Homo sapiens: one gene and its partners. The protein of the gene in region 2 purifies or fractionates together with the protein of the main gene of each other region. This does not show direct contact. Each region holds a gene or a part of one and is shown on either strand. Other genes may lie near its edges.

Region 1 (3,500 bases), on a different chromosome or scaffold from region 2:
AGAGGACATCTACTGGACAACATTTTTTATTAGCTATATACTAGTTCTTAGAAAATAAAAAACCAGCAAATCAAAATGCCTCTGTATTGTCTTCCTTAACATTCTAAACTTTGGACAAACTAGTCCAGACAAACCATCTCTCAGCTCTTACTAGCATTCTAATTGGTTTTATTTTGGTAGATTTTCTCTCTTAAAATTATGTGTAAATAGGTTCTTTATGTGTGACTTTTTTTCTGTCAGATGATGATTCATACTATTACATTTATTTTCAGTCTCATCCAAAAACAAAAATACTTAGTGATGAAAGATTAGGAAAATTGAATATGAACATTAATGTTTCTGTTATCTCTGTGATACTCATCCTCCTTTTGCGCATAGAAACTAAGTGAGAGCCTAGAGTAGTTATCTTAAAAATGCTTTCAGATACGTAATTATCTTTATGTGGTAATATAGCAAGGATGAGAACCTGCCTCTTCCTGTCTACCTACCAGACATTTATAGGAGGAGGCAATAGGAATACCTAAAGCTAAGAATTAAGGACATCTGGAAAATCCTTTGACAAATAGTGAAACAACAATTAATGACAATGAAATCTATGACCAAACAAAGATCAATACATTTTTATATATTAAAGATTACATGTGTTGATCTATTTTGTCCCAGATAAGCTTTGTTGAGTGCTTACTAGGAATGCAAAACAAAATATAATTCATATATATTCCTGTTGTTCGTGTATACAATTTTTATTATTCACAGGAGTTATGTTCAATGAAGCTGCCACAAACACTGAAATAACAACTACTGAACCATTACTCCTAGGGAAACTATAGGGTTTGATTCCTCCAAGCCTTTGTTCACAACATTTTCGTCAACCAGACAATGTATAACTTTGTTTTGCATGTGTTTCTGTTTAAAAACAACTTGTTTAATATATATTGTTGAGTCCTTAACATTGAACTCACAGCAAACAGTGCTATAACTCATGTCTTAATGAAGCATATCTAACACATACTTTTTCTCCATAAAGCACATCACAGCTTTCTTGCATTTAGGAACACTAGCTGGCATGTTTGTACTTCATTTAGTGACCATTTTAAACACTGAAATTAACAACAAAACAAACAAAAATGTGAAAAAACATAACACTAAATAAACTACAAAGGACACTTGTTTATAGATTCAGAGCTGAAACAACAAGCCAAAGCATCACCTTGTTCAACCCCAGCTGGTAACATGCATATCAGGTGACTCAAATTTTTTGCCACTCTGAAAATATCTACAAATGACCATGAATTGATTTTGGGGTTACAAATACATTTTAGAAAGCAGGCAAATTCACAAATGTGGAATCCATGAATAATGAGAATCTATTGTACATATGTTTAAAAATCAACCCTGTTCCTAGAACTGATTTGATGGTTTTGCATTTCTTACAGACACAGGTAGGACGTTTTGCACCTCAGTTCTCTGGATATCAGCAGCAAGACTGTCAAGAACTGTTAGCTTTCCTATTAGATGGATTACATGAGGATTTGAATAGAATTAGGAAAAAACCATATATACAATTAAAAGATGCAGATGGAAGGCCAGATAAGGTAAATTTCATGATCCTATTGTCACCATTGTTATAATTTTGTGATACCTCTTTCTAATTTGTGTCTATTATCCTTGTAGGTGGTTGCCGAAGAAGCCTGGGAAAACCATTTAAAACGAAATGATTCTATCATAGTAGATATATTTCATGGCCTTTTCAAATCAACTTTAGTTTGTCCTGAGTGTGCTAAGATTTCAGTAACATTTGATCCTTTTTGTTACTTGACACTTCCATTGCCCATGAAAAAAGAACGCACCTTGGAAGTTTACTTAGTTAGAATGGATCCACTTACCAAACCTATGCAGGTAAATCATGGGTTGGTTTGTTTTGTTTTTTTTTTTTTTTTTTTGCATTTGTTATTTTTATTAAAAAATTAGTGTTGAGTCCTTATTATAAAAATTAAGTATTGAATTATCAAGCCCAATCAATAATGTTTATTTGTATAAGAGATTTTATAAGCTGAATACTTTGGAAATCAGTGTAACTTTTTACAGTCTTGAAAGAGCAACGTGTGTCTTATAAAAAATTCTCAAAAGGCTTTTTATAGAGGTTTATTTTTATAATATTGGGGTGAATATTAGCTTATGAAGATCAACATAATATTTTTAATTTTTTTAAACTTCAACTTTCTTTAGTGTTAATTGTAATTTTTTTTTACTAGTGGCTATTGGAAGTAAAGCTAATACTTTTAATTCATAGTGTGATAGTAGTGTATTTAAATACCTGTAATTTTTAGGCATTTTAGGAACTTAAAAGAAAGTAGAAATTCAGTTAGACTAAAAATATTTTGTTCAGTGATGTTCTCTAATTTCTAATACTTTGAAGTATCACATATTGTTTATTCTGTGCAAAAGTCCTGTGGTAAGTCTTACTGTCAAATTGTCTGCCTGATTCCGTTACCTAGTGTTATAATTGGATTATTTATATTTTGTGGGTAAAGCACTATCTTTTCTCCCTTATTTATTAATCAGTTAATCCTCTTCTGACACTTGACCCATCCCAGTGAAAGTAACTTCTTCTTTTTCTACCTCTCTTTCCCTAAATTCTAACACTTAACTAATTTTGTTATAACTTTTGGCTTACTTTTATCTTTTATCCCTAGACTACAAGTCTTTGAAGACAGAGACCTTGTAAACCTTTGTATTTCCAGCTTTTGTGGCTGGTAAATATTAATGCACAAGAAGTATTCAAAAATTTTATTCATCAAGATACTTAACTATGCACCTACTAAGTATAAAGCTCTTTGGCTAAACAAAAAAGATATGATTCCTGCTTTAGAAGATTGTTTTCTGTAAATTTTTAGCCAAATAGCTCAGTTTGTTAGTGCATAATAGTCACGATGTCTATATGAAAGCTATATTTGAACAAAATTATGATCTTACCATTCAGGGATGTATTTGGGTTTATTGTCAACAAAGACAGGGTATATGTAGTGTTCATAAACACACAGTCCTTTTATTCAAAGTAATTAAAGTCTAGTAGATACTAGGTATGTACTCAGTTATGCAAATTTAAGCAATTTGTTTTTCTGCTGCTTTATGTTTTCTTTATGAACTCATTGAACACAATGCCCTCATATCAGTATTTCACTGGAGAGTGCTAAGTACTATCCCTTATCTGTGAGCAGAGCCAATAAAGACCTGCTTTTACTTTTGGCCTGGGGAATATGTGTTCACATTTTTAAAGTTATATCCTTTAGATATTCACTTATTCACTCGTTTATAAGTACAAGATTGTCAACATTCTTTTCAATGGTGAGAAACTATAACAGTGCCAAACCACATCCTTACCTCTCTAGTTTATAACTTTGCAGATATACACCAATGAGTGTAATGGAGCAAGAGAGCGTAGAATAATAAGTATAAATTTACTGCAACAAAAAATAAATGTAGATGTTTTATTTCTC
Region 2 (3,500 bases):
GCTTATTTGTAAGTTAGAATGATTCGTTAACCATGGAGTTCTTGTGTTCAGAAAGGAGCCTTACTTTTTATGCACACACACACACACACACACACATACACACATGTGTCTGTGTCTGTATTTTTGGGTGTGTATTAGTCCTAAAAGAAACAAAAGTTTTACCAATTTATTATGTTTAGTTACCAATAACTTTAATCTATTGGCTATTTGAATTACTGGTCTTCACTGTCACAAAGATTTACCTCAAAATTTAAAAAACAGACAAACAGTCTCAATATAAAATGGCACATAGTATATTAATGGCTGTTTGATAGAACCTGCCTTCGTTTTATACCACTTCTAAAAATACGTTTGGAGTTAGCTGTATTGCGTAGGAGGCTGTGGGATGGGACTACTAACTCCAGTTTTACCATCAAGAAATGATCTTTGATCACTGTACATCTATGTTTATTATCAGTTAAAAATAATGACACATTTCAGCTGATGGTTTTGGTCAACAATAACTAGAAAAGCCAGATATAAGGACAGTATTCTGATAAAACCTGGTGGAGAGTTTCAGAAGAGGTCAAGACTAGAAGCTTCAAGATTACAGATGGAAGAAGTACCAAGGAGGTAATGTGACTTTTCACAATATGTTTTTTCCCCGGGATGAAGAGTGGGGGCAATTGCCAATCTGGAAAGACAGTGAGAGACTAAGAATACGGGCTTTGCCTGAGCAGAGGACCACTGATGTGAGACAAAGAATCTAGCAGAGATTTTGGCAGTCTTGAGGGACTGGAGAGACAAAATTAGCTATGAGGGGCCAAGAGCTCAGTGAGAAGTAAAAGGTGTAGCGCTCAGCTTGACACATACTTGATTTTACCTACATGAGATTTGCTAAAGCCTGAAGTTACACATATGAGTGGAGGCTAAGACACTGAGAAGGAAGCTTCTGGAAAGAAGAGCGGATTCTCAGGAGTCTTGTCCTGGCTTGTGTTGAGGGCCTGTGAATGCACCAGTAGAAGTTCAAGACATCTGGGCTGGGTGCGGTGGCTACGCCTTGGCATCTGGGAGCCCAGAAGTCTAACAACTTGTGAGTCAGCTCAGTCACTGGGTGGATTACAACTATGGGCTACCATCCCACCGTATCTGTCTAGCAGAGGAAATGTTGATACTTCTTTGGGGATGTATAGATCATCTGGAGCCTTTATAAGTTTGTTTTTTGTTTTTTGAGACAGAGTCTCACTCTGTCACCGAGGCTGGAGTGCAATGGCACGATCTTGGCTTGCTGCAACCTCTGCCTCCCAGGTTCTAGTGATTCTCCTGCCTCAGCCTCCCAAGTAGCTGGGATTACAGGCACCTGCCACCATGCCTGGCTAATTTTTTGTATTTTTAGTAGAGATGGGGTTTCACCATGTTGGCCAGGCTGGTCTCGAACTCCTGACCTCAGGTGATCCACCTGCCTAGGCCTCCCAAAGTGCTGGGATTACAGGCATGAGCCACTGCACCTGGCTGAGTCTTTATAATTTTTATATACAATAACTAAAATTAAGAGTAAAGATATGCTGAAAAGAGGCTCACGGCAATACAGCTGACATTAGCAGACTAAAACCTTAGAATAAGTTTGATTAATATGCTCCAAGTCATAGAAGAAAAGATGGAGAAAACAGATAAATTGGAATCTATAGAAAAAATCAAATGTACACTTGGAAATTTAAAAAAATACAATAATTACAGTAATAACCTGTGGATGAGCAGTATAACAGGCATGGTGTAGAAGGTTAGTAAACTGAAGAGAAGGTCAAAAGAATACTCAAACAAGCACAGAGAGAAAAAAAAAGTAGAAAATAGTAAAACAAGTACAGGGAGCATGTTGGGTACAGTGAAACCATCTATTAAACATGTAACTCAGATCTCAGGAAAACAGACACAATGAAGTAGAGCTATCTATGAGAAGATAATAGTCAAGAATTCACCAATGAATTTCACCTGATGAAAGATAACAATCCACAAATTCAAGAAGCTCTGCAAACTTGGAGGATAAATCCAAAAAACTTATACCTAGCAATATATAGAAAACTAAAGAAAATAATGGCAAATGAAAAATCATAAAATCACCCAGAGACAAAGACACATTTACCCTCATAGCAACAATATGACTGACAGGTTTGATGGAAGTGAGAAGTCAAAAGAATAACAAATGTTGGCCGGGCACAGTGGCTTATGCCTGTAATCTCAGCACTTTGGGAGGCTGAGGCAGGCAGATTGCTTGAGTCCAGGAGTTTTAGCATAGATGGTGAAACCCCATCTATGCTAAAAATACAAAAATTAGCCAGGCATGGTGCTAGTCAGGAGGCTGAGGGACGAGAACCACTTGAGGCAGAGGTTTCAGTAAGCAGTGATTGCGCCACTGCATTCCACCTGGGTGACAGAGTGAGGCTCTGTCTCAAAAATAAATAAATAAAAATAACAACATGTTGAAAAAAAAAAAACTGCCAAACAAAAATGCTATACTTAGCTTTAAAAATTACATCTATTTAAAAATATTTTCAGACATACAAAAACTGAGTGAATTTGTTGCCAGCACACTTGCAATAAAAATACATAACCACTTACTTCATAATTTTTATGAATAAATTATAAGTGCATTGACAAGAATGCCACAAATTTAACATACCAGATATTCTAAAACCACAATTACTTTTGCACCAACCTAATAAAATAGAATTCACACATTAGGTTCACCTCTATCAATTTACTTCTTTAACTGAAACTAATTAGAAATTTAAAGTGATTAAGTTCACTAATATATAATATTTGTCACAGTTCCTCCTGAATTTTCCAAATCATTTTTGTACACTAGTTCATTTGCTATGCACTGTCCCCCATGAGAAAGGCAAGGCAGATATTATCATCTTTATTTTATGTAAAATGAAACTAATGTTTACAGACTCCGACCCTTGTCCTCAAGTACATGACAAAGTCAAAAGTAGAACACATATTTCCTACCACTGTTCATCACTGAAACACTAGGAGGTAGAAATGAATTAATAGTATCATAGGGGAGTCATAAATTGCAAAATGAACCCAATATATAGCAAAGGGATAATCGTGGCTTCAGAGAATTTGTCTCAAATATTTTTATTTTATTTTTAAAGCTACATTAACAGCATTATTTTAACCCTCTAAATATTAGATCATCACACTCCTAAATATTTTCAGCAACACTATAACCGTTGACTTTCACTGTTGTATTTCCAGAAAAAGTTAGGATGCAAAAACCTTTCAGCCAAGGTTTTACTGACCAATTTCCCTATCAAAGGCCTACAGGAAAGTGAAAGCTACAATGTTTTGTGATCCATAAAACATCCTTAAGCTAGAATTTGAATTACACCATGAAAAAGCCCAGAAGACAACCTCTTCATTGAGTTTAAGACACAATTTTGCCTCAAGGTGGGTAAAGGACGTTTCGCTCTATCATAGAGGTCCTAAAGTATCTGTTAAATCACACAACTGGAACA
Region 3 (2,187 bases), on a different chromosome or scaffold from region 2:
TGAAGGCAGTCCTACCACTGAACTTTTCAGTTAAATGAAATAATGTACACTCTTATTGCTCAAGCCAGGTTAAATTCTGTCACTTTCAATTCAAAGAGTTCTGACTAATGCAACTATACATTCATTCAGACTGAAATCCCAATCTTAAAGTCGAATTTTTCTAAATAGAGCCTTTAACAGTTTTGTGTCATCTCCAGATCTTTCTCCTGCTTCTGAAGGTCTCTGCTGCTTAATGGACACAATATTCACAGGGTGAGAGAGGGCTGCTTTGCCTTTTCTTACCTGTAGCATCCCTCAGTAAGTAGCGTACCATTAATGCCATTTTGTAAAATCCCTTAAAGCACCTAGCACAATGATGAACTATGAGATACTGTTAGAAATATGGGCTCCCCATCTACAATGATTTTAAAGTCATTCACTTAAAACTGGAATAATGCTTAATTTCTGTGAACATAATAGTATGATTCCATTCTCAAAAAGGAAAAATGATGCTATTTCCCTTAATTTATCAGAAGATGTATTTAATTATTGCTCTATTAAACAGTTCAGAGAAGTATAATTTTTTTTATATTAAAGAAAGCTTAGATCCTTCCTAGTGTGTGCTTTTTACCACTGGATTTCAAGAAAGCAAAACAAAACATAAAATAACAAAAGCATATTCCTTTAGCTCTGCTTCTCATATATAACAGACTAAATAAACCAAATTTTTATAATTCCTATCTTAAATTAGGGAGTGACATTATTTTACCCATCTTTAGAGGAAATGGGAAAGAGCAAGTTTAAAAAAACTACTTTTATTTTTTTTTATTTCTTTTTCAGTTACATACTTTTAAACAGGGATGTGTTTCATTATTCAGACATTCAGGCAATGTTGACTTCATTAGTGTTGACAGAAAATAAGCATAAAAATGCAAAACATTGTTGGCTTAACCTGAACATACCTGCATTACCTATTATTGACCAGTTTGTGTTGCCAAAAGACTTATTCCTCGGCATTAAAATGGAGCACTTAAAAATATTGCTAAAAAGCAAATGCCTACACACTGGTCTTTGCAGCAAATAAGGGTATTTATACTTTTAAAATATTTTAAGTCCATAATTGGATTAATATACACACCTTCTTATGTATAAGGAGTTCAGATCATATAAACACTGTACAATCCAAAAAACCCTACTGAGAATAAAACTAAATAGGCTTATGATAAGAAATACAGATATTCGCATGTATTTACAAATATCATAGACACACAAGTTTGGTCAAATACTGTAAAGAAAGAAGAAGTGGTTTCACATTATAATGGCCAAAATGTTTATCTACCTTGCTCAAAGCAAATAAAAATATAAACTCAGTATGTAACTCCTGCAGTTTAAGACATCATGACAGTATACAGATAGATAGAAACTGTTGACCAAATTATACAGCAAATGTTTTGTAGGTTAAGTGTAGGTCTTTAAAATAAAAAAAAGATCATTCATAGGATTCATAGCAACAATGATAAACAATGTCCTGATTTGTGGTGTTCATGTGGGTGCCTAATTCATCAAAAAAAAATGCATTAAACTTTTGGCTAATAAGAAAAATAAATTACAAAGTACAATTAAATCCCTGTAAATGCAATAATGAAGTAAAAAAATGTAGCTTTACTTTAATATACATCTTAAATGTTACCTTGAGACAATAAAAATAAATAAGCATGCCTGGAGGCACACACTTAAAGACAACGAAGAGACTGCATGGGAGGAATAAGTAACAATTATATAAATGAAAGATGAATATGAGATTTATTCAAAATAATTATCTTTCTAGCCAGTCTTTGTTTTAACCCTTCTTGAAAATTTTGGCTAGTAGAATGTGACAAAACTACATGTGTGTCTTTATGGCTTAAAACAAAGCATACTTGAAAAGTGGAATGGGCTTCCTTTTTTACAGAATTTTTTGTTGTTGTTGTTGTTGTTCATATGCAGGCACTTCAAAAGACTATGGAGGCAAAGCACCTGACCCATCCTTTCCAAAATATTTTTCAATCATCAAAATTATGCTAAAGAGTAGGAAAATTCCAGAGAATCAGCAAAGTTGAATACAAGAGACTAATGTGCACAGAGGGCATAGAGTGACCCACTTTTTATTGCTGGGGGTCTTTTTTTTAATCAAAGAGCAAAATAATTACACAGACACCATTGCATGGC
Region 4 (3,500 bases), on a different chromosome or scaffold from region 2:
AATGCTGTAAAGAAACGTTTGATGACAGACAGAAGGATTGGCTGCCTTTTATCAGGTGAAGTCAATTAAAAAAACCTAATTATATTTCATGTGTGTTTAATTGAAATGATTTGTAGCCATCCCTTTGGTTTTTACTATAAAATATTTACTGTATGATTTACTCTTTCCTTCATTATAGGATGGAAATGATTTTTTATAAGCTGTATTTAATAGTCATAGTCATACTCCAACTTGAGTTACACTATAGCTATGTTATTGGTGTTAAGAGTGAGTCAGTGAATGTTCTTTAGAATTCTGTGTAGTGATTTTTAACCAATTCAAATACTACTATTATCACAGTTTATATATTTTTCTCTTGTTGAAGTTGATTTCAGTTTATAAAACTTGGCGGATTTTAAATAGTAAAACTATGATCTTGGTGTTTATCAGGAATATACATCTTCTGTCCCTGTCTTATGCAAGGCACATAACTAGGACACTTCCACTTCCTCTTTTGCATGTAGGGGGCTTGGACTCCAGCTTGGTTGCTGCCACTCTGTTGAAGCAGCTGAAAGAAGCCCAAGTACAGTATCCTCTCCAGACATTTGCAATTGGCATGGAAGACAGCCCCGATTTACTGGCTGCTAGAAAGGTAAGGTGCTGTCTCTGTCCCTTGTGTAGTGTAGTTAGAGTAGACTTGTTATTAGAATGAAAATGGAGTCAATAATGGGTGATTCTACTGCTGCTGTATTGACTGGGTCAATTGTTTTAAATTGATTGTATTAAAATAGAATGAAATGGCTGTTGGATATGCACTGTGTTGTACACTGTCCTCTGTGTACTTTTATCTGTTATGACCCATGCAATTCTCACAAAGACCCTATGATGATAAGTATGCTCTTTTGAAAGTAAAGGTGTCTGGGCATGGTGGCCTACACCTGTAATCCCAGCACTTTACGAGGCTGAGGGAGGTAGATTACCTGAGGTCAGGAGTTTGAAACCAGCCTGAGCAACATAATGAAACTCCATCTCTACAAAAAAATACAAAAACTAGCCAGGCTTGGTGACGCATGCCTGTAGTCTTAGCCTTATGGGAGCCTGGGTGACAGAGTGAGACCTTGTCTCAAAAAAAAAAGAAAGTAAAGGCATAAGTCAGGTGCAGTGGCACACACCTATAGTCCCAGATACTTGGGAGGCTGTGGGGGGAGGTCTGAGCTCAGGAGTTCAAGTCCAGGCTGGGCAACGTAGCAAGACCCCATCTTGAAAAATTAAAAAAACGGGTTTTTTGTTCGTTTTTTTTTTTTTTTTTTTTTAAACGTAAAGGCATAGTATCATGGCTAAGACTGCAGACTTTGGAACCTGACTTGTGGTTTGAAATCCTGGCTCTACTCATTTATGTAACCAAAATAATAGTGTCTGCTATGGGGAAATTTTAAGGTGAAATGATATAATTCATGTAAAGTAAGTAGGGTAGAACTTAGCATGTAGTAAGTACTTAATGAGTGTTAGCTGTTATTATTATTTTTGAAAGTACTGTATTTAGAATACTGTGGGCAGAGGGCAGCTTGTCTGTATTCAGTGAGCGGGAGACCTAGTTCCCACTATGGAGGACTTTCGTAGCATGGATGAGAAAAAGCTAGAGAGCAGTCTCAGTGCAAGGTAATCAATGCCGAGAGAATCCAAAATAGCCAAGGAAAGCAGAATGAGGGGAAGGGCCATTCTATATAAGAATAACATCCTGGATATAAAATTAGGCATTTAAGAAGGACCAAAAAAGACCAAGCTTAGCGTGGGACCATGTTGGACTAGAGAGAGATGAGGTGGGTTAGGTAAAATAGGTAGAGAGGGAGGTGCCAACTGGGAGAATGGTTGAAGCCTTGGCACCAGAGGAGCTGAGGGGAGACTTACTTCCTGGTGGTGGAGTTGAAGCAGGCGAGGGAACAGTGCTGGATGGGGCTTGTATGTGGTGGGCTGTAAAGTCATTTTTCTTTTTTTCCCTTGTTTAGTTTTCACCATTGTTAATTCATAAAGCTTTGTGAACTCCCATCATGTTTGATTTTCAAGGGAAGTTATTTTCTTTAACAAGTAAATGGGTATTTCTTTATATAATAAGGTGGCAGATCATATTGGAAGTGAACATTATGAAGTCCTTTTTAACTCTGAGGAAGGCATTCAGGCTCTGGATGAAGTCATATTTTCCTTGGAAACTTATGACATTACAACAGTTCGTGCTTCAGTAGGTAAGGTATTATGATATTCTTAAATAAAAAGCTTTTTTTAATACTGAAAAAAATGTAAGGTTTAAAAAAATTATTTCAAGCCATAGTTTTAAAATGTTATTTAAGGATGAATGCAAATTAAATCCCTATGTTACTGATTATTTAAGACCACTTAAGAATTCTCTGAATCTCTTTTGGAGTGAAGGGAATAGTAAATACGTAGTTCAACCTCCACATTGTTGGTGTCACTGTTGGTGTTTCCCCAGGGAGCAGATACATATTTTCTGCCCTCTACCTCCCATTTCTCTTATAGTTTCTTGGGCTACAGTCTATATACAGTGAGGAAATAGGTCTTTTTGGTAATGCATTTTTGATAAGAAATAGTCATTTTAGATATATTCCATCACACAACTTACCAGTCACTAGCTATCATTGCTCTGCAAACAATACTAATTTTATCTTGTAGATAATGTATCTACTGAGATTGGAAGTATACCCCAAATCAGACTGATCCAGTGTTATTGAGCCTTTATATGCTACTGCCTCCCTTGAGAGACTTGCCTTGGAAGGCAAAAATATCTTAGGTATTACAATGGTTTATGGCCCTCCAAAACATCACAGTAAATAAGCAGATAGACAGGATAGCTCTGGTATTGGAATTTCATGGGGCTGGGGTGAGGTTAGGAAAATAAGTGTCTAAAAAGGCTCTCTAGCTGAGGTGATAATAAAAACAAGGTTGAGAAGAAACACTGGTTTAGAGAGATGTGGTGCAGGACCAAGGAGGCAAGTTTAATAACTTATATAGTCTCCCCAGCTTTATGTGAAATCTGGTAAATGGGGAGTGGCAGGGGGAAAATACCCATCAAAATTAACACTAAACCACCAAAACGGTTATTCTTATTTTTGTGTCATAATACCACTATGAAAGGCATGATTTTTAGGTATTTGAGTCATTGTTCAGCTTAGCAAAGTTTTGAGGTGGACATTCTTGGTCTAAAAACATTAGAATTTTAAAACCTGTTTAGAAAATGACAAAATGGTTCCGGGTTATTTTATTTTACAGTAGTACTTTTGGATTAAGTACATATAAATGGCTTATAAATACAAGGTCATTATTGTGGAAACTACTTTATATTAATATGAAGTCCAGTATAGTAGTAAAGCTTTCAATTATTTCCAAAAATCAAATCAAAGGCATTTTTGGTGGAAGGTTATGTTGACATTAAAGTTAATTTCTCTCTCTCATTTAAGGTATGTATTTAATTTCCAAGTATATTCGGAAGAACACAGATAGCGTGGTGA

Evidence for each region. Proteins that work in one complex are often made in the same cells at the same time.
Region 1: the proteins of MARCHF1 (region 2) and USP15 purify together in Homo sapiens (affinity purification with mass spectrometry, with the first as the bait; one large-scale study listed by BioGRID). This does not show direct contact.
Region 3: the proteins of MARCHF1 (region 2) and CSNK1G3 purify together in Homo sapiens (affinity purification with mass spectrometry; one large-scale study listed by BioGRID and IntAct). This does not show direct contact.
Region 4: the proteins of MARCHF1 (region 2) and ASNS purify together in Homo sapiens (affinity purification with mass spectrometry, with the first as the bait; one large-scale study listed by BioGRID). This does not show direct contact.

Annotation. Positions count from the first base shown.
Region 1 is NC_000012.12:62,382,404-62,385,903, forward strand, and holds part of USP15 (ubiquitin carboxyl-terminal hydrolase 15), read left to right. Parts: intron 1-1,436; coding exon 1,437-1,595; intron 1,596-1,674; coding exon 1,675-1,899; intron 1,900-3,500. UniProt on the Homo sapiens protein: Hydrolase that removes conjugated ubiquitin from target proteins and regulates various pathways such as the TGF-beta receptor signaling, NF-kappa-B and RNF41/NRDP1-PRKN pathways.
Region 2 is NC_000004.12:164,377,520-164,381,019, forward strand, and holds part of MARCHF1 (E3 ubiquitin-protein ligase MARCHF1), read right to left. Parts: intron 1-3,500. UniProt on the Homo sapiens protein: E3 ubiquitin-protein ligase that mediates ubiquitination of TFRC, CD86, FAS and MHC class II proteins, such as HLA-DR alpha and beta, and promotes their subsequent endocytosis and sorting to lysosomes via multivesicular bodies.
Region 3 is NC_000005.10:123,615,363-123,617,549, reverse strand, and holds the end of CSNK1G3 (casein kinase I isoform gamma-3), read right to left. Parts: 3' UTR 501-2,187; downstream 1-500. UniProt on the Homo sapiens protein: Serine/threonine-protein kinase. Casein kinases are operationally defined by their preferential utilization of acidic proteins such as caseins as substrates. It can phosphorylate a large number of proteins. Participates in Wnt signaling.
Region 4 is NC_000007.14:97,855,409-97,858,908, reverse strand, and holds part of ASNS (asparagine synthetase [glutamine-hydrolyzing]), read left to right. Parts: coding exon 1-55; intron 56-503; coding exon 504-631; intron 632-2,092; coding exon 2,093-2,219; intron 2,220-3,449; coding exon 3,450-3,500.